4 separate regions of the Homo sapiens genome follow, and all the other regions are linked to region 4. The links come from fine-mapping of genetic effects on gene expression. A gene starts in region 4. Each other region holds a variant in brackets. All regions are shown on one strand. Distances are from middle to middle. Region 1 overlaps UNC45B (unc-45 myosin chaperone B). Region 2 overlaps SLFN5 (schlafen family member 5). Region 3 overlaps UNC45B (unc-45 myosin chaperone B). Region 4 holds the start of SLFN5 (schlafen family member 5).

Region 1 (5,149 bases), 79 kb after region 4:
CTGGAGTGCAGTAGTGCATTCAAGGCTCATTGCAGCCTTGACCTCCTGGGCTCAAGTGATCCTCCTACCTCAGCTTCCCAAGTAGCTGAGACTACAGGGGTGTGCCACCACACTTGACTCATTTTTAATTTTTTTTTTTTTTTTTTTTTTTTTAGAGATGAGGGTCTCTCTACATTGCCTGGGTTGGTCTCAAACTCCTGGTCTCAGGCAATTCTCCCACATCGGCCTCCCAAAATGCTAGGATTACAGGCATGAGCCACCACACCTGGCCAGCAGCTTTTTGCCTTTCTTTTTTCTTTTTGAGATGGAGACTTGCTCTGTCACCCAGGCTGGAGTGCAGTGGTGCGATCTTGGCTCACTACAACCTCTACCTCCTGGGTTCAAGCGATTCTTCTGCCTCAGCCTCCCTAGTAGCTGAGATTACAGGCATGTGCCACCATACTCGGCTAATTTTTGGTATTTTTAGTAGAGATGGGGTTTCACCATGTTGGTCAGGCTGGTCTTGAACTCCTGACCTCAGGTGATCCGCGCTCCTCGGCATCCCAAAGTGCTGGGATTACAGGCGTGAGCCACTGTGCCCAGCCAGCTTTTTGCATTTTAAAGGATTTTTAAAAATATGTTGACAGAGACTTATCTGTCCCACAAATACTAAAATATTTACTCTCTGGCCCTTCATAGAAAAAGTTTGTTGACCCCTGGAATATAGAAAGGAAAAGCAGAGTAAAGGCAACGTCTTCACCCACCTAAGACTCACCTGGAGTGCTTTTAAGCATGCAGCTTCCTGAGCCACACCCCAAACTACCGAGTCAAGAGGGGATGTCTCAGAAATCTGAATAATTTACAAGTCTGGGAATCACTGCAATAAAGAATTAAAAGGTCATGCACTGGAGTCACACTGATGCTGGAGCACCAGTGAGGAGACTCAGGAACTGCAGCTGCTGAGGGTCCTAACCCCTGTCTAGCTCTGCAAAGCCACATGAGTCTTAGTCTTGAAAGAACCGGGCCTCCCTCCTTGACAAGCTGACATGTGTTCCTTTCAACCACAGAAGCCAGTGGTAGGTATAAAATATGTCCATGGCTGGGCAAGGTAGTTGATGCCTGTAATCCCGGCACTTTGGGAGGCAGAGGCAGGAAGATTGCTTGAGCTTGGGAGTTCAATACCAGCCTGGGAAACATAGCAAAACAAAAAATACAAAAATTAGCCAGGCGTGGTAGTGCACACTTATAGTCTCAGCTACTTGGGAGGCTGAGGCAGAGGCAGGAGGATCGCTTGAGCCCAGCAGGCTGAGGCTGCAGTGAGTCATGATCATGCCACTGCACTCCAGCCCGGGTGACAGAAAAAAAAAAAAATTAGCCCAGCATGGTGGCAAGTGCCTGTAGTCCCAGCTACCCTGGGAGGCTGAGGTAGGAGGATTACATGAGCCCAAAAGTTCGAGGCTGCAGTGAGCTATGATTGTGTCACTGCACTCCAGCGTGGGGAACAGAGTGAGACTCTGTCTCAAAAAATAAATAAAATAAAATATGTCCAAAAATATGTTGACACCCCTGCCTTCAAAAGCTGAAACCTAATTTCTTCCCCTTAAACATAGGTCAAACTTACTGACTTGCTTCTAACGAATAGAATGTGGCGGAAGTGATGACATGTGTCTTCTGAGGCTAGATAGAGAAGACATCTCCCTGCTGCCTTGCTCTGTCTTGGCTCTCTTACTGTGGCATGCCAGCGGCATGCAGTGAAGACGCTTCAGCAGGCTGCAGAGAGGTCTGCAGGGAGAGGAACCAAGGCCTCCCACCAACAGCCAGCACCAGTGTGCCAGCTGTGTGAGTCCACCATCTTGGAAGCATTTTCCAGCCCCAGTCAAGCCTCCAGATGGCTGCAGCCCCAGCCAGCATATGACTGTAACTTCATGAAAGACCATAAGCCAGAGCCACCCAGCCAAACCACTCCCAAATTTCTGTTCTGGTGTGAGATAATAAAACACTATTGTTTGAGCTGCTAAATTTTGAGATAATTTGTTACACAGCCATAGATAACCAAGACAGAGCCTGACCCTGTGAGGCCTCCAGGAAACTTACGTGATATATTCCTCACAGATCTTGCGGAAGTGATCGCGCTCCGGGTCACAGCGCAGGTCATCATAGAGCTTGTTGATGAGGATAGAGGCCAGCATGCGGGTGTTGTCAGTCAGGGGCAGGCAGGATGGCAGATCTGGAACCTGCCCCACAACCTTCAGGATCTTCCTCAGACCTGCAGGGTAGACAGTGGCAAGCCTAAGATTCCTGCTGGGCTCCATCCTCACACACACCCCTCACTCAGTGACTTGTTATCATCAGCTTCTCTCCAGCCCTGTCTGTAGAAAACATGTGGTTCATCCAGAATGAAAGGGCCTAGAATGGGGTCAAAGGACCCAGGTTATACACCTGACACTGCCCCCAGCTTGACCAATTCACCTCCCTCTAGGGGCCTCTATTTTCATGTGTACAAAATCAGGACTAGTCGATCTCAGAGGACTCTACCAGTGCTGACATTCCATGGGCTGATGTATAGTCTTCTCCAAATACTATTTCATATTCCCTTCCTCAAGCCTCAGCTTCTTCATTTGTAAAATGGGAATAATACTACCTACCTCATAAAGTTTGAGGGCTCAATGAGATAATGTATGGAAACTCTACTATCAATCCAGACACACTACTAT[G/C]ACTCAATAAATGTTTATTATTGAGTGTGTATTTATTAAGTATTTATTTAGTAAATGCCATATTTACATTTATGATGATGATGATGATGTCTTCTCATCTCTTCTGTTGAAAAATCTTCAATGGCTTCCTATTACCGTTGGGCAAATTCAACAGTCATGTCTTTGTTAAATAAATGAGCACCTTTGGGGTACTGGCTACCAAAATAACAGATACAACCCTGACCTCCAAAAGCTCACAATACAATAGGGAAAACTGACATATGAAGATTGCAATGAGATGTGATAAGTATAGAAGGGTAACACTGAAGATGAGGTGATTCACTTCAACAAAATAAGATCTGCAATTTATTCTGAGCACTTACTACGTGCCAAGAGCTTTATACACATTCACTTCATCTAATCCTAACAATAACCCTGCTGGTTAGGAATCATTATTTCCATCTTTCAGAGGAGAAAAACAAGACTTAGAGAAGTCAAGTAAGTTGCCCAGGACAAGTCAAGTAAGTTGCCCAGTGACATAGCAAGGACACGCTCCCAATCCCGTCTGATTTCAAAGCCTGTGATGTTAGCTGTTATACTATGTTGCCTCTGGGGCAACAGAGAGATGGATTTCGGAGCCAGGTTTTAGAGGTGGCTTGGAGCTGGTCAGACCTTGTGTAGTACAGGGAAGTGGGAGAAAGAACATTCCAGGTAAAAGCTGGGAGGCATGAAACTCTAGATGTTAGGAGGGAATTAAAAGTGCCTGGAACCAGCCTGGCCAACATGGCAAAACCCCGCCTCTACTAAAAATACAAAAAAATTAGCTGGGCATGGTGGCGGGCACCTGTAATCCCAGCTGCTTGGGAGACTGAGGCAGGAGAACTCAGGAGGTACAGGTTTCAGTGAGCCAAGATCACGCCATTGCACTCCAGCCAGGGCTACAAGGGCAAAACTCTGTCTCAAAAAAAAAAAGTGCCTGGAAGTGGCTTGGTGGCTCATGCCTGTAATTCCAGCACTTTGGTTAGGCCGAGGTGGGAGGACCACTTGAGCCCAGGAGTTTGAGACCAGCCCGGGCAACAGACCCATCTTCCCATATGAAAGAAAAAGAAAAAGAAAGCGCCTGGCAGTAAATTTTGTGCTATGTACATTTTACCACTTAAAGGAAAACTTCTGTTTCCTCCCTAAACTACTCCTACTCTCAGAGCTTACTTCTGACACTGGATGGGTGTCCTACAATTCAACGCTGACACTAACCACTTGGGGTTAGCACAGACTCCACAGGTTAAGGGCTCAATCCCACAAGACTACCCTCCTTCGGATGCCAGCCTCAAGTCCAAGTTGCCACCTGTGCTTCTGACTGGCCAACTATAAATCAGAGATTCCCATGACCCTCTCCCTCAGGTTTGATAATTTGCTAGAATGGCTCACAGAACTCAGAAAACCAGTTTAGTTACTAGATTACCAATTTATTATTTAAACAACAACAACAACAAAAACAGAAACTCAGGAACAGCCAGATGGAAGAGATGCAGAGGGCAAGGTATTGGCAAGGGGCGTGGCACTTCCATGCCCTCTCCAGGTAGCCATCCCTCCAGCACCTCCATGTGTTCACCAAATTGGGAGCACTTTAAGCCCCTTTGGCTAGGGATTTTTTTTAAATAGAGGCTTCATTATGTAGGCACGGTTGATTAAATCATTAGTTATTAGTGATGAATCCCACCTCCAGCCCCTCTCCCCTTCCTGGAGGTAAGGGGTGGGGGGCCGAAAGTTCCAATCCTGTAATTGCATGGTTGTTTCCCCTGGCAACCAGCCCCCATTCTGACATTCTGAGGTTATCTAGGGGATCCCAGCCACCAGTTATTACATGAGCATACAAAAAGATACTTATCACTTCAGAGGTTAGCTGTGTGCCAGGAAACAGCAGCAGAGACCAAATATGTGTATTTCTTATTATGCAACAAGCATGCATTTAAAAAGTGCTCAGTAGGGCTGGGGAGTAACAGGAAGTGCCTGATGAGCCAACACAGACTCCCCAGCCTGGGTCCTAAAAGCATCCCTCAAATGCCCCTCTCCAATCTCATCTCCCGGTCTCCCCTTCCATTCTTGCCCATGCCTTGAGCATCTCATTTCTCTTCTGTTCAAACACTCTAGACCTTCCTCCTGTCTATCTTTGCCCCTTCTCTCACCCAAAAGCTCACTTCGGGTTTGACATCCTGACAGCTCCCTTACCGTGCCTCCCAGCCCAGTTTGCACAACACATAACACCTCAACATTGCAGCTTTGTATTCGAATATCTGAATTTTTAAATCCACATTATTTTTACCCAAGTGCTGTCCATGTTGGTGCCCTTTACAAAAAGAACAGAATAAAAAATACTGCTCTCTACCTGTCCCATCCCATAACACGTGGATGAGCCTAGATCCTGGTGCTGAGAGAGAAGATCTGTTGTTAACGCTCACGTTTCATGACATATGTGG
Region 2 (5,149 bases), 23 kb before region 4:
CACTGCGCCCAACTTATGGTGAGTTGTCTTTTGTCCCCTGAGTTATATATCCTTTCAGGATGGGTTCTTCATCTGGCTCATGTCATATTTCTTTTCTACATTTTTCCCCATTGTCTTTCGCCTAATGATCAGAACACTTATCTTTCTAATGCTTAATCAGGGCAGCTGGGTAGAGTCTTTCTTTTTACCTTAAGATAGTATAGAAGGGCTCTCTTTGACAACTTTCTTAGATGAAGTAGACTAGTTTGGCTTCTTCTCCAGTGTATAGCTGGAGGCCTGGGTGGTGTCTTCCATCTACTTTTGTGTAGCCTGATATGATCTGGTGTGAGATGAGGCCCTCGCTGTTAACCTGGTTTCTACTCTTTATTGTTGCCTAGGAACTTCCATTAAATCCACTGAATTCCATGAAGGAGGCAAAGCATCCAGGAATAAGACACAGCCCCCTTCATTGAATTCATGTGAAATCCTGGAAAATCCCTCCTGTGTCCACGGAGAGTCCCTGGGGACAATCAGGAGTTTCTGTGCTCAAGGGTCTCCCTGGCATTTCCCTGAGCTGCCTGCTCAATACCTCCGCCACCACCCTTCAAACTGGCCATATTAACAAGAATTCTGGTTTTCTTTTCTTTATGTGACATCTATTCATGACTACACTGGGCAGATGAGATAGTAGCTATGCCTTTATATAAAACTTTTAAATTCTTTTTTTTTGTTTTATTTATTTAATTTTTGGAGACAGGGTCTTGTTCTGTCACCCAGACTGGAGTGCACTGGTATGATCATAGCTCACTGTAACCTCAGACTTCTGAGGTCAAGTGATCGTCCTGCCTCAGCCTTCTGAGTAGCTAGGACTCCAGGTGTGCATCACCATTCCCAGCTAATTTTATTTATTTATTTATTTGTTTGTTTGTTTGTTTGTTTTTGTAGAGACAGGGTCTCACTATATTGCTCAAGCTGGTCTTGAACTCCTGGGCTCAAACAATCCTCCCACCTTGGCCTCCTAAAGTCCTGGGATCACAAGCATGAGCCACCATGCCCAACCTTTTCTAGTTTTTAAATTTTCATACATATCTATTAGATGTTTATAGTGTAAGGTTGAACTCCATTCTTTGCTTCTCTGTTGCTGGTAAATTTTTGGGTATATTTTTACTAATTTTGCACATTCTTTTACATATTGGTAAAGGAACAGTCTGTGATCTGGATTTATTCAGATCCTTATTCAGAATTACCAATTGTTTTATTAATCATTTTATCTTAAATGTGTCTCTACTTACTAGTGATTTGCAGTATATTCCAAGTTAGTTGTAAAAACATTTCACAATAGACTAATTTCTTGCTTTCCTGTGAAATTGTCTCAAATTTAAAAAGTAAAGTTCTTAATATTGTAAGTAGCTGCCAGAAATAAACCAATTCTAGCTTCAAGTTCATACTTCTTACAATGAGAATTTTAAATTTCTTTATTCTTGGGAAATAGCAGGGCCTTGCTGTTTTTAATAGTGAATTAACTCTGAATTTTTTAGTTTCTGTCTCTCAGAAAAGATGGATTTGTTTGGCTTTAAATATTGAGAGAGTTTCTAGAGACCCACAGGAAATGAGAAATTTGCACTTTTGTAGCAATGGCTTTTGAAAGACTAGCTAACATCCTGAAGACTCAGCAGAAGAAAGATATTAAACTGACTTTGTCGTTTTGTTGATTATTAAATTAAATGGAAAAACAAAATGTAACCTTTGAGTCCAATAGACTCATCCCCCTAGGCTCTCTATCATCTTCAAATCAATCAGTAAAACACAGTGTGCCTCCCTGGGGGACTGTGGCAGTCTTACCTTCATGTAGTAACCTAAGACGCTCCATAAGAATAAAAAATCAGAGCTAAGGAACAGATTCCACATAACCAAAAGGCTCACAAAAAGCATTTTAAAATATAGTGATCAAAAACACTAATGTCGTTAAAAGAAAAAGCAGAAAATAATAAAGTAATATAATGTGGTCTTGCAAAAAACAGTCTGTGATCTTACATTTCAAAACATGTCTTGCCCGTTCCCGGCACCTACAAGGCCAGATGAGCTACCTGCTCCATCCTTCACATTCTCGCTGCACGTCCCATTCAAGCTCTTCTGCAAGTGGCCATGTTAAAAATTTATAAAAATATCCGAGTCTGCCTGGCACGCTCAGAGATTCTCATGACAAGTTCTTCCCTCACTGAGCACTTCCCTGACCACCCAAAATAATCACCCCCTCCATCTACCTACACACATGTGCACGTGCGCGCGCGCACACACACACACACACACACACACACACACACACATCTCTGAGTCTCACGGTCCTCTAATTACTGATATCCCTTTTTACCATGGGAAATTCCTTGTCTATCTGTGTATTTGTCAGTGGTCTGTCTCTGCCCTAAAGGAGGAATCTTACATCGATTCGTTCTCAATCCCCAGC[A/G]CCTAGAAAAGTATGTGACTTAATAAGTGAGTGTGTGCTTACATGTTTGGATTAAATGGTTTCACAGTTAATTAGAGATGAGAACCACTTAATTGTTTCTTAGGCTTGGGTTTCCTGTCACACAGAAGCCTTCAGAATATACAGATGTCTTTTTGCCCTAGAAGCCAAACAGAGCAGAAGATTGTAGGCCCCAGCCGGTGGGGCTACTCCTGGATTGATTCCAAACACGATATTTCTTTCCAGGCCTGAAAATCGACAGACACTGTCCAACACAATGTGATCGGTTAGAACATCCGACGCATCACCGATCTGTAGTAACAGATCAGACTCCTCATGGAGCTGAGACAGTTTTCTCTTCCTCATTGCTGTTAGAAGCCTGTCTTTATATTTTTCCACTTCACTTGCTTTGGTGAAAAGCACAGCAATATCCTTCGGAGAATAACCATTCCGCAAGAGAAAACGGCATTTATTCGCTACATAGATCAGTATCTCCTCCAAGTTCAAGTCTTCAATAATCTCTAAGTTGCCTGGGACACCTTGAGCCCATTTAGGTTCATAGAGCATCACCAGGGACCCAGGGGGGAGGTTAGGTGGAGGATTTTGTCGGGCTTCCTGCATTACTTGTTGTAGGTAATTAGCTATTGGACCTGCATTGCGGACCACTCTGTTGATCTCTTCTCTTGGATACTGGTCTGAGGGAGGGGGGAGGCCACTGCAACTCAAGTGATAGGTCTGAAAGTAGTCCAGAAAGATCCAGAGAACTCCTGGGCCATCCCTTGCTGTCTGAGTGATGAACTTTGCTTTCCCATACCAGTCCCCATCTTCAGTACGGAAATTCTGAGCGTCATCAATGATAATGTGCTGGATGTGTTCAAAGTTGTTTTTCATGAAGGTTTTCCGGGTCACTGGCTGGCAGATGTTTTTCTTGCTGAAACTGTAAGAAACAGAGTCAGGTTTTTCCCCAATGAAACAAAGAAAGCAGATTCTACTCTTAAACCCCTCTGGTCATGGTAAATACAATATGAATTTTAGCAAGTAAACTGAAAGCCACACCAGCCACAGTCACTCAAGAAAATAAAGTGAACACAGACAAGCAGCATACCTCACCAACTTCTTCAGGGGCTGGTTTTCACAGATGTAGAGAATGTTAGCCGGTTCACAGTGAAACACATTCCTGATCTTCTCCATGATCCTAAGAGCCAAGATAGTCTTCCCTGATCCAGGTAAGCCATGAACAAACAACTCTCTGGTCTTGCGAAGGTTCTTTGAAAGCAACTCATACTGTTTATTTGTCAGTAGGTTCAAAACCTCAGAGCCCAGCTCTTCACTTAAGAAGGATTTGAACCCAAGCAAGACTATCACGAGGGACTGTAACAGGGCTTCCATGTGCTGGGGGGTCATGAAGTTATAGGATTCAGGGTAAATTTGTAAATACGAACTGTAAACGCTCTGTGCTTTTCTATCAGAATTCAGCACACAGACCAAGGGGGTGATGCATAACCTCCCAGTGTAGCCGCCTTTGTTCACCAGCTTCTGCTTCAAAGAATAGGCAACTATCATAGAATAGCCCTTGCACCCCGCATCCCACTTGCTGAAGATGGTGTAGAGAATAGGGGTGTTGTTCTGGGAAATTAGAAGAGCATCACAGATGACTCCCTGCTTCTCTTGCAGACCTAAATCCACAGCCCAGCTTTGAGAAAAAATCAATATTCCTTGAGAGAAAGGGCGCATTTCTGTATTTATTAAGTCTCTGAGTCCTTTATGTTGTGAGAAGAGTTCCTTGTAGAGGCTTTCTGGAGTATATACCACTCTGTCTGAAAATACTAGACAGGGAAAGGATGGGAAGAAATTAGAAAAGCCTCAGACAAGCTAGTAATCATCATTATACGTAGAAGAATTAATCAACACTGGGACTCTACTATGTATCTACAATAGGTTATACATTAGTAATAAAAAGATAAACAATTCTTATTTTGATGGGGCGCTAATTAGCTGGTATAAACAGACAATAATAATTATGGTAAAAAGTGGTCAATACAACTAGAGAGAAGGACAGAAAGTATTATGTGAATACCAAGGAAAGGTACAATTTAGGAAAGAAGAAAATATGAAAGTCTTTATGAAGAAGGAAACACCTGAGCTGATTCTTTTTTTTCTTTTTTCTTTTTCTTTCTTCTTCTTTTTTTTTTTTTTTGAGATGGAGTCTTGCTCTGTCGCACCAGTGGTGCGATCTCGGCTCACTGCAACTTCTGTCTCCTGGGTTCAAGTGATTCTCCTGCCTCAGCCTCCCAAGTAGCTGGGACCAAAGGCGTGTGCCACCAAGCCTGGCTAATTTTTGTATTTTTAGTAGAGCTGGGGTTTCACCATGTTGGCCAGGCTGGTCTCAAACTCCTGGGCTCAAGTGATCTGCCCGCCTGGGCCTCCCAAAGTGCTGGGATCACAGGCGTGCGTCACCGCACCCAGCCCTGAGCTGATTATTAAAGGATGACTTGGAGTTAGTGAGTTGAAGAGGAGAATAGAGACATGGTCAAAAGAGGGCACATGACTAACACTCAGGGACAAGAAACAGCAAGGAAGCCGGGCGTGGTGGCTCATGCCTGTAATCCCAGCACCATGGGAGGCCGAGGCAGTTGGATCACTTAAGCCCAGGAGTTCAACACCAGCCTGGCCAACATGGTGAAACCCCATCTCTACAAAAAATACAAA
Region 3 (5,149 bases), 71 kb after region 4:
CTCCCAAGTAGCTGGCAGTACAGGTGCACACCACCGTGCCAGGCTAATTTAAAATTTTTTTGTACAGATGGGGTCTCAATATGTTTCCCAAGCTAGTCTTGAATTCCTGGGCTCAAGCAATCCTCCCACCTGGGCCTCCCAAAGCCCTGGGATTACAGGCATGAGCCACCACCCCTGGTCCCATGTCACTTTTCAAAGCTGATCCCCTCAGACCTTTCTCCAGGCTTTCCCAATAGTTTATCTCCTCATTTAGGCCCCCACCATTTCTATCTCCCTGCCCAGTGTGCTGCACTCCAGGACCCTCGGCCCCCAGCCCTAGTTCCAAGCCTTGGCCCACTGCAGCCCCACCTGGCCAGCAGCTCCTTGGTCTGGTCAGTGAGGATGGCACTATCTGCTTTCACCATGCAAGCCAGGGCAGAGATGACACCCGCCTTCAGAAGCCGCTTCACCCGCATGTCTATAAAGTCCTTCTTGTCCTGAGGAGATGAAAAGATGGCAATGTGGGAGGGTCCTGGGTGCCAGGCCAATCGGTATTGGAACCAAAGATGGTGCATTTCTGAATTCTTGGGGTTGGTTGAATAATGGCCTCCAAAGATGTCCATGGCCTGGCCAGGCACAGTGGCTCATGCCTGTAATCCCAGCACTTTGGGAGGCTGAGGCGGGCGGACCACGAGGTTAGGAGATCAAGACCATCCTGGCTAACACGGTAAAACCCTGTCTCTACTGAAAATACAAAAAATGAGCCAGGCGTGGTGGCGGGCACCTGTAGTCCCAGCTGCTCAGGAGGCTGAGGCAGGAGAATGGCATGAACCCGGGGGCAGAGCTTGCAGTGAGCCGAGATCGCACCACTGCACTCCAGCCTGGGCGACACAGCGAGACTCTGTATAAAAAAAAAAAAAAAAATCCATGGCCTAATCTCTGGAACCTGTGAACGTGGGACCTTACATGGCAAAAGGGATTTTGCAGACACGATTAAGTTAAGGATTTTGAGATGAGGGGGTAAGCCTAGATTTCTGTGTGGGCCCAATATAATCACCAGGATCTTTATAAGAGGGAGGCAGGAAGATCAGAGTTAGTACTAGGAGATGTAACAATGGAATGGAAGTGAGGTCAGAGTGGTTCAAGGTCACCAGCCAAAGCATGTAGGTGGCCTCTAGAAGCTGAAAAAGGCAACAAAATGATTCTCCCTTAGAGCCTCCCAAAGAAACCAGCCCTGCTAACACCTTGACTTTAGCCGAGTGAGACTCATTTTAGGACTCTTGACCTCCAGAACTATAAGATTTTTAAAACCGGGCCAGGCGTGGTGGCTCCCGCCTGTAATTCCAGCACTTTGGGAGGCTGAGGTGGGTGGACCACTTGAGCCCAGGAGTTCGAGACCAGCCTGGGCAACATGGCGAAACCCCGTCTCTACTAAAAATACAAAAATTAGCTGGGCATGGTGGAGCGTGTCTATAATCCCAGCTACTCAGGAGGCTGAAGCAGGAGAATTGCTTGAGCCCAAGAGGCGGAGGTTGCAGTGAGCCAAGATTGCACCACTGCACTCCGCCTGGGCGACAGAGGGAGACTCAGTCTCAAAAAAAAAAAAAAAAAAAGTATAAAAATTGCGTTTTAGGCCACAGTGCGTGTGGCAATGTGTTCTAGAAACAATAGGAAACTAAGACACTTCTCCAGATTCCCTCTTCCCAAGCAACTGCCAAGGGGTATACAGCACGCCTTGCTGTCGTGTGTGATTGTCTCTCCTCTCTTCTTCCTTGCCTTACCTAATCCCAAGACAGAGCCTGAGGAGCTGATACCGTAGAAAACCAGTCCCAAAGATTCTCTCATTCACAGAGGAATGAAATAAAAGACGGATAATCCAAAAGACTAAATGATGCGTATATTGTTTTTCTTGGAGAAGGCTGAGGTGGGAGTGGAGGTAGAGAGAGGGTATAGGCAGGAAAGGACACAGTGGATGAAGCCGCCATAACAATGGATTGGGTTTGCTGGAAACCCAAAGTCAACCCAGGGTTAAAGAGTCCCTACAGATAATCCTCAGAGTGAGGAGTGGTGGGGAAGGGGCTGACAACCCTGGGCAAGCCCTGGAAGCCACACTGGAACTTCACAGCCACAGCACATGCTCTGCACCCTTGCCTGGATGAAACATCATGCAGCTTTCAAAAATGATTCAGAGGCCAGGTGTGGTGGCTCATGCCTGGATTCCCAACGCTTTAGGAGGCCGAGGTGGGTGGGTCACTTGAGGTCAGGAGTTTGAGACCAGCCTGACCAATATGGTGAAACCCTGTTTCTACTGAAAACACAAAATTAGCCGGGCATGGTGGTGCATGCCTGGAATTCCAGCTACTTGAGAGACTGAGGCAGGAGAATCACTTGAACCTGGGAGGCAGAGGTTGCATTGAGCCGAGATCTCACCACTGCACTCCAGCCTGGGTGACAGAGCAAGACTCTGTCTCAAAAAATAAATAAATAAAATAAAAATGATTCAGAGAATGAGATGGCAATGTGAAAAACATATTTTTCCAAAATTGGGCACAAAATGATAAATATATTCTAATTATAACTGTGAAAGGAAAAAAGATACATAGAAAAAAAGCCTCTGGTAGGTAACATAACATCAAAATGCCAACAGCAGTCATGTGGAGATGACGTAATCATGAGTGGTTATTTTCTTTTCCCCACATTTTAACTCGTTTTGCAGCATGATTATATTACTTTGATCATTAAAAAAATCTAAATGATTTTATTGGCTGGCAATATCTTGCATATATTCTTAAACAAATCACACACAAATCATATCTTCATGTGCAGGGAATTGTTGGAGAGGGTTCCAGGGGATCTGTGACTTCTGGGCTAATGCTGACCATGCCTCTCCTCTCATGATTCCTACTTAGCACCCATGTCACAAAATCCAGAAATCTGAGAAAATCAAATTGTTATCTGTTGGAGACATGAAATAAAACTGTCTTTTATCCATAAAATCAACAACACAAATTGCAAAGTGTCCATCATGGCTCTGTTTGTTTTCTCAGACTATAAATTGTTGGATTTTTTTCAAAATAGAAAATAAAAACAAAGAAAAAGCATGAGCACCATCTGG[T/G]GGGAAAGTTTACCATTAACATATTCAATGTATGTGTATCTTACCCCCAACCACCCAAACACACACCGTGCCACTCCTGACACCACTCCTTTTGCCGTTCCGCCTCCTTTGGAGGCCTAGTGGCACAGACCAGACCCCTCCCGGGTCGCGCCTGACCCTACCTTGGGGTGTTCCTCGGGCACATGCTGCTTGGAGAACTTGGCGAGCTGGACAAGCTCTGGGATGACCTCCTTGACATCGTAGCTGTTGGTGCAGTTCACCAGGGTGGTGGCCACCGAGTACAGGATGGTCTTGTCACTGGTCTGGAAGGCACAGGGTTGGGGAGAGGGAAAGCAGAAAGGAAACTTTAGGACAAACCTCTGCTTCCAGGATGCTCCCTCACGTGGCCGGCAGGTTGGTGTCGGAGGAGTGCAGCTGGTAGGGCCCATTCTGAGGAAAGACAGCAGCGCAGGAGAGGAACGGTTCTCCCCATAAAGGCAGGCAGCAGTGTCTCCTGCACCCTCCACAGTAGCTCTGACAGTATGAATAGGAGCTGTCCCACAAAGATCCTCGCTTTGCGCCTCTTCCACAAGCCCAGTCTAACACTTTCCCATCCAACTGGAGATGGGGTGGGAGCTGGACATTTTCCGGTCCTGGTGAAAATCTCTCCCATGCTTCCTCCATTTACTGGTAGAAAAGGGCCAGGGAGTTGGCCCAGCAGATGAGGAAAGGAGTCTGGGGGGGCCTGGGAGGGAGGGCAGGTTCCCAGAAAGGCCAGGCACAGCCTCTTTTATTTATTTATTTTCTTGAGGCAAGGTCTCTCTCTGTCACCCAGGCTGGAGTGCAGAGCTGGAATTCTAGCTCACTGCAGCCTCGATCTCCCAAGGCTCAAGCAATCCTCCCACCTCAGCCTCCCGAGTAGCTGGGATTACAGGTATGTGCCACCACGCCCAGCTAATTTTTGTATTTTTTGTAGAGTTGGGGTTTCACCATGTTGCCTAGGCTGGTCCTGAACCCCAGAGCTCAAGCCATCCGCCCGCCTCAGCCTCCTGAAGTGCTGGAATTACAGGCACGTGCTACGATGCCCTGCTTTTTTTTTTTTTTTTTTTTTTTTTAGCTGCCTCAGGTCCTTCAAGACCTCACCTCCTGAGGGCCCCAGGAAAACAAACTGCCCTCCTGTGCATCTTCCCATCTCTGGAAGGCATTGGGAGTCGGGAGTCCATTTTACAATCAGGTAAAATGAGGGCCAGAAAGGGGGAAATAACCAATCATGTTTATACAGGGGTAAGGAGTAGAGCCAGGAGGAAGACTGGGATCCATTCCCTGTGGGTCTGGACCCAGCAGACCTTTCCTGAGGTTTGTGGTCGGGCCAGACTCCCCGACACCTGCCTTGGCCAGCTCAAACATGGCCTGCAGGGCAGGGACGTCCTGGACAAAGTCGTCCTTCACATCAGCGTCCAGCGTGAGGTAGGCCAGGCCCTCCACTGCCCAGCGTCGGGTCCGAGTGTCTATGGACATATTGCACAGCCACCTGGAAGTGAGGAGGGAGCACACATGGGAAGGGGCCCAGGGCTAGGTCAAGAGGGTGAAGCGATTTCAGGGTGGTGAACCAGGGGTGAGGTCCCTTTCACACTCCACTAGAGCACACCCCAGAGACTCTTGCCCGGAAGGCGCATGAGGAGATGGAGGGCCTGGGAAACACAGCCCCCTTACTTGCGACACTGTTTGGCCAGTTTTTCTGTCGACCCTTCCGCAAACTGCCTGAGACCGTAGTCTGTGCCACCTGCAGAGCCGAGCTTACAGAGTCCCTGAGGAGGAGAGGAGACAGCAGACACATGCAGGATCAGAGACACCAAGGCTTGGGGATGAAGCCTTGCTCAAACAGGTTTCTATGGCCAGAACACTTCGCCCCTCTTTCTTTGCTTGGATCCACCTCTGTGCAGACTGTAAAACTCAGCTCAGGTGTCACCTCTGCTGAGATACTTTCCCTGATGCTCTGGGTTAGGGTAGAGGCCCATAAAGTTGCAAATTCTTGACCTGCCCCCTTCCCCCACCATTTTGACCCCACAGATGTAT
Region 4 (5,149 bases):
ATGGCCCCAAATCTCCAGAGTAGTGATGCTGGCAATTCAGATATGCCAAAGAAAAGCCTTTCTTTAAGTGCTTTCTTTAAGTGAAACAGTGAAAGTATAGGGAAAAAACACATTAGATATAGGGTTTGGTGCTACCCATGGTTTCAGGCATCTGGTTTTAGGCATCAACTTAGGGTCTTGGGACATATCCCATGGTTAAAGTGGGGCTGCTATAAACACGTGTGAATTTTCATAATCAGGCCAGGAGTGGATCACAGCATTTTCCTCTTCTTCCTCTTACATGGAAATAATAAAACTGCTTATTTTCTTAAACAAAAGAGTTTAATTCTTGTGACTTTTTTTATGGTGGGGGGAGGGGGTGGTTCAAGCAATTCTCCTGCCTCAGGCTCCGAGTAGCTGGAATTACAGGCATGTGTCATCACATCCAGCTAATTTTTGCATTTTTTGTACAGATGGGGTTTCACCATGTTGGCCAGGCTGTCTCGAACTCCTGACCTCAAGTGATCCGCCCACCTCACGTGATCCACCAGCCTCAGCCTCCCAAAGTGCTGAGATTACAGGCATAAGCCACGGCGCCCGGCCTCTTGTGACATTTAAATGAATACTTCTGACACAGGATGTTATCACACTGAATTGCTTGTCTGTTATCCTGCCACAGGAACTCTCACCTCCCATGAGACAGACAGATTAGGAATCGGCTTCTTTTTCCCCCACAAAGGCAGGCACAGCCTCCGCCCCCTTCTCATAGGGCGAGGCCAGACAAACTTTAGCCATTGCTCTCATCTTCTCCTAGAGGCTTGGCTCTAAACCAACGCCCTCCCACCCGCTATTGGTAGGGGAGGGGAGGAACTATTGAAAAGTTCCCCCCATCCTCCCTCAAGCATCCCTTCCTGCCTGCACTAGTGACAAAGGATCCCCTTCTGGTGCAACCGAGCCCCTCAAGATTTCAGCACCCCAACATTTTTAGTGATGAAACCATGAAAATTCCGATGAGGCCCTTGCTTATTTGCATATGTTAACTACCCACTTTTTGCCCAATATTCCTTTTTCTAGCAATATAATTATAAACTGCTGATGCACCGTTTCTTTGTCAAGCAGGAGGATATAGCTTCAGAGTCAAGAAAAAAATTTTGCAGAAGGAATGAATGCCTTTAAGGGCATTGTGACCAGCTGCTGACGCCCAGAAGTCTGGTGGTTCAAGATGTAATCTGAGACGAAGAAAGACTTTTCCCCGAGGTTCCCTGAAATTCCCCCTCCCTTACTTCCTGGTCTCATAAAAACTCCCCACTACTTCTTTTTGTTAGGGTGGATTTGAGAGATCTTGACCTCTTGCCTTCTCGCTTTGGCCAAATGGAATAAATCTTCCTCTGTCTCCAAGCATCTGTGTGTCAGTGTTTGGCATCAACAGCACATCAGGTTCCTGAGCCTGAATTTGGGCTTCGACAACTCGGGCTCCCGGGACACATGCAAGAGGGAAACGGAATCACACCGCAGTCTCAGCCACTGCGGATATGACCAACTAGGGCTCTAGTTAGTCACTGTATGGGGGATACAGGGCTTTGTGGGCTACCCTAGTAGCCTGCCCCTGTTGTTACAGTTTGAAGACTGACGTTCCAAGCCAGGGGCTTATAGGCAAGCCTCTGGAACAAAGCCTCTTGTAATAGACTGGACATTGGCCCTATTTGTCCCCAGGCCACAACCCATTTAACTTCATCCTCGGGAGCCCCGATTTCGTCGTTTTCCCTTAAGTCCTTCGTGCTCCTGAACCGTGGGGAAATGTTGCCAGGTTTGGTTTGCTAAGATGTAGGCTGCGCTGGGTCGGCGCCTCTCCCTCCTCCCCAGCTCGCCCCGCGTTCCGAACCTCCCAGCTCCCGGGTCCTCTGCCACTAGCTGTCGTTGGAGGTGCTCCTGAGTCAACAAACTAAATCTCCCCAGCGGGAAAGACTCTCTCCCGGCAGCGCCCAGACCTGGGGAGCTGCAGTCGCCGCACCTTGTCTTCACCACAGCCCAATAGGAGAACCCGCGCAGACCGGGGGGAGGTTTGGGGAAGGCCTGGGCAAAGAAGCGCGGGGGATTCATTACCCGCTGGGTTCTCCTCGGCAGCGCGTCTCCCTCCGGGAGCAGGCAACGGAGCCTCCCAAGTCCAGAGCAGAGAACCTGACCCGGCGGGATCCCGGGCTTATATCAGCTGAGTTCCGTGACACCTCCCGGGGCGGGACATCGCGCAGGAGACAGACAGAGGTACAGCCCAATCGCATCGTTACGTGGAGCCGGAAGCCCACTCTTGCAACTACAACAGTCTTGGTAAACCTTGGGTGGACTGGGGAGAACTGAGGAGGGGAAGCGCTTTTTTGTTGCTTCTCTGTGTTTTCTATTTTATTTTATTTATTTTATTTTTAGATTTTCAGTTCTTATTTCACCCAGGGAAGGAGACCTGGGTATCCACCCCATGTCCTCCAGAGAACTTCCCTGGCCCCGCTCGGAGTCTTCCTGGGACGCCACAGGCTCGGAGAGCGCTCCGCAGGTTTCTCCCCCGGCGCCTCCAAATCTTTCGATTCCTACTCGAATTACTCCGTCAGCTGCTGGAAGAGGGGCAAGGGGTATGGCGAGACGCGTTGGTACATGGGGCACTGGGGGGAAGGGAAAGCCTCCCTCCTTCTCCTAGTAATTCGAGAATGTTGCGTCCGCCTCCTTTCTTTTGCTGGCGCTAGGGGCTCGGACCAGCACCTGCCAGGCATAGGTGTGGCCACTGGGGCGAAACCTGGCAGGCTCTGGAAACAGCGTTTTACTGACAGGAAAGAGAAACTGTTCTTTGTATTCATCACCCACCGCAGACTTCCTCACGCCCGGGTCTTAGGCGGGGCTGTCAGATTTCAGTGTGTTTCTCTTAATTCTAGTACTAAATTTGTACTGGGCGCTGGCGAAGGGCCTGGCTCCGCCACGCGCGGCCCTCTCGAACTGCCCGTGGGTACGGCGCGCGCTGCTGCCCTGTGTGGCCTGTGCGGGGAACCCGAGGGCCGAAGTGGGCCCCGCCGCAGCACAGGGGGACAAGAGAACCAGGAGCGGGCTGCCTGGGGGCAGATTCGAACCCGTGCTCCCAGCGGATAGAAGTAGCACTTGGGGACTCCTAAAATATTCAGCCCAATCCTGATTCCAGCTGCCCTCTCTAGGCACCTTTCCTCTACCCTTCTTCCAGTTTACAATTCTGGTGAGTAGATGTTTCTCTATCTCTTCTCTTCCAACTCCTGCGCCCAGAGCCAGGAGGACTTCTGGAGCCCGCCCAGCAAGACCCTCTCTCTCCCATCTTCTGCTCAAGGGCTCGAGGTCTCAGTGGACAGAGCTGAAGAAAAGCCGTCTATGGAGCCTGCGCCAGGCGCAGACTGGGTCGTCGCAGTCTGGGTCGTCGCAGTCTGGGCCGGGGCGCTGGAAGTCTTACTCACTTCTCAAGAACCCGCAAGGGATCAGGCCTGACCCTTTGCAAGTGACAGAATCCAAAGCTTTGAGCTCATGGGAAAGTGGCTGGAAAGAAGGTCACTGTAGGGCCGCACAGGTCTCTGGCGAGGCTACCCAAGAACATTTAAATCCCTGCCCAGAGAAGAAGAGGCTCCAGCTGTCCTGCACCTTCCTGGGAACTGGCAGTCCCTCCGCGCAGGGGTTCTGCAGCGACCGGCAGCGCGAGGAGACAAGGATGGTGGCCAGTTAACAGAAAATCAAGGCAGCGGGAAAGGTCTGGAAAACACCACCTACTATCACCTCTGGAGCCTGGGATTATGGGATAAGTTTTCGATTTTTAAATGTATTGTCAAATAGCTAAAGTACACGGAAAGTGCGAAATAATAGTAAATTGAACACCTGTGTATTCACCACACAGCTTAAGCAATAACATTAGCAATATTTGGGTACCCAGCTGGTCTCATTCCCTCATTCCACTTGTCCCCTACTCACCTGATAGCCAGTACAATTTTATGAATTTAAAGTTACTAATTCCCATGCAACTGTTTATACTTTTAGTAAATGTGTTTATGTCCCTCATCAACACATGACACTGATTCAACACATGTATATGCGTTTAAGCTGCATGTAAATGGCATCATGTTGGCCAGGTGCAGTTACTCACGACTGTAATTCCAGCACTTTGGAAGGCTGAGAGGGAAGACGGCTTGAGGCCCAGAGTTTGAGACCAGCCTGGGCAACATAGCAAGACCCTATCTCTAAAAAAAAAAAATTGTTTGTTTGTTTGTTTGTTTGTTTGAGACGGAGTCTTGCTGTGTCACTCAGGCTGGAGTGCAGTGGCGCAATCTCGGCTTGCTGCAATGTCGGCCTCCGGGGTTCAAGCAATTCTCCTGCCTTGGCCTCCCAAGTAGCTGGGACTACAGGCACATCCCACCACGCCCAGCTGATTTTTGTATTTTTAGTAGAGACAAGGTTTCACCATATTGGCCATGCTGGTCTACGAACTCTTGACCTCATGATCTGCCTGCCTCGGCTTTCCAAAGTGCTGGAATTACAGGTGTGAGCCCCCGCGCCCAGCCAAAAAAATTGTTTTAAATTAGCTGGGTGTGGTGGTGCCTGCCTATGAAGTCCCAGCTACTCAGGAGGCTGAAGTGGGAAGATGGCTTGAGCCCAGGAGTTGAAGGATGCTATGAGCTCTGATTGTGCCACTGCACCCCTGCATGGGCAATAGAGTGAGACCCTGTCTCTTTAAAAAAAAAAAAAAAAGTATCATATTGTATGTGTTCTGTAGAACTTGCTCCCACACTTTAACATTTTGCTTTAAAGATTTGTTCATGTACTTAGATCATTCCTTTTCACTGCTTTATGAGCTGAATCATTTCTGCTCTTCTTTCCATCCATACCCATTGGTCTCCAAAGTATCCAGGCCTCCCCAAAAGTTCCTGCAGGAGACCTCAGTTCCACTGGCTTTCAGGTCATTATTGTTCCAGCACTACTTCTCCATTTCTGGTTCCAGCCCTTCTCTCCCACATTCTCAAGCTTCTAGAGGGTCATAAGAGAGGAAAAACGCCAAATGCCTTTGATAAAATGTTGCCTTTCCAGTGGTATGCATGTTTGTGTGGAGTGGGAGGGAAGTGAGGGCAGATGTGACTTACTCTCAGCATTAATTCAAGTTTAAAAGTAAAATCTTTAGGTT

The links. PIP is the estimated chance that this variant, and not a neighbour inherited with it, causes the effect.
Region 1: its variant is fine-mapped to the expression of SLFN5 in spinal cord (GTEx, PIP above 0.99).
Region 2: its variant is fine-mapped to the expression of SLFN5 in whole blood (TOPMed, PIP above 0.99).
Region 3: its variant is fine-mapped to the expression of SLFN5 in whole blood (INTERVAL, PIP 0.95).

Annotation. Positions count from the first base shown.
Region 1 is chr17:35,161,091-35,166,239 of GRCh38, reverse strand. UNC45B (unc-45 myosin chaperone B) reads right to left here. Exons shown (of 20, transcript NM_001267052.2): 9 at 2,074-2,245. Among named protein-coding and RNA genes, the nearest start is that of UNC45B, 16 kb to the right of the region's middle. The variant G/C (reference allele first, on the strand shown) is at 2,694.
Region 2 is chr17:35,263,300-35,268,448 of GRCh38, reverse strand. SLFN5 (schlafen family member 5) reads right to left here. Exons shown (of 5, transcript NM_144975.4): 4 at 3,546-4,266; 5 at 1-3,377. The coding sequence ends at 2,561. Among named protein-coding and RNA genes, the nearest start is that of SLFN5, 23 kb to the right of the region's middle. The variant A/G (reference allele first, on the strand shown) is at 2,444.
Region 3 is chr17:35,169,569-35,174,717 of GRCh38, reverse strand. It overlaps UNC45B (unc-45 myosin chaperone B), which reads right to left. Exons shown (of 20, transcript NM_001267052.2): 11 at 4,787-4,881; 12 at 4,463-4,604; 13 at 3,256-3,396; 14 at 349-476. Among named protein-coding and RNA genes, the nearest start is that of SLC35G3, 22 kb to the left of the region's middle. The variant T/G (reference allele first, on the strand shown) is at 3,095.
Region 4 is chr17:35,240,077-35,245,225 of GRCh38, reverse strand. SLFN5 (schlafen family member 5) reads right to left here and starts at 2,154. Exons shown (of 5, transcript NM_144975.4): 1 at 2,083-2,154. LOC105371932 reads left to right here and starts at 1,075. Exons shown (of 4, transcript XM_047437262.1): 1 at 1,075-1,115; 2 at 2,007-2,304; 3 at 2,401-2,600; 4 at 3,256-5,149. The coding sequence starts at 1,075. The coding sequence ends at 3,703. RefSeq lists enhancers at 1,111-1,739, 1,713-1,822, 2,343-2,402.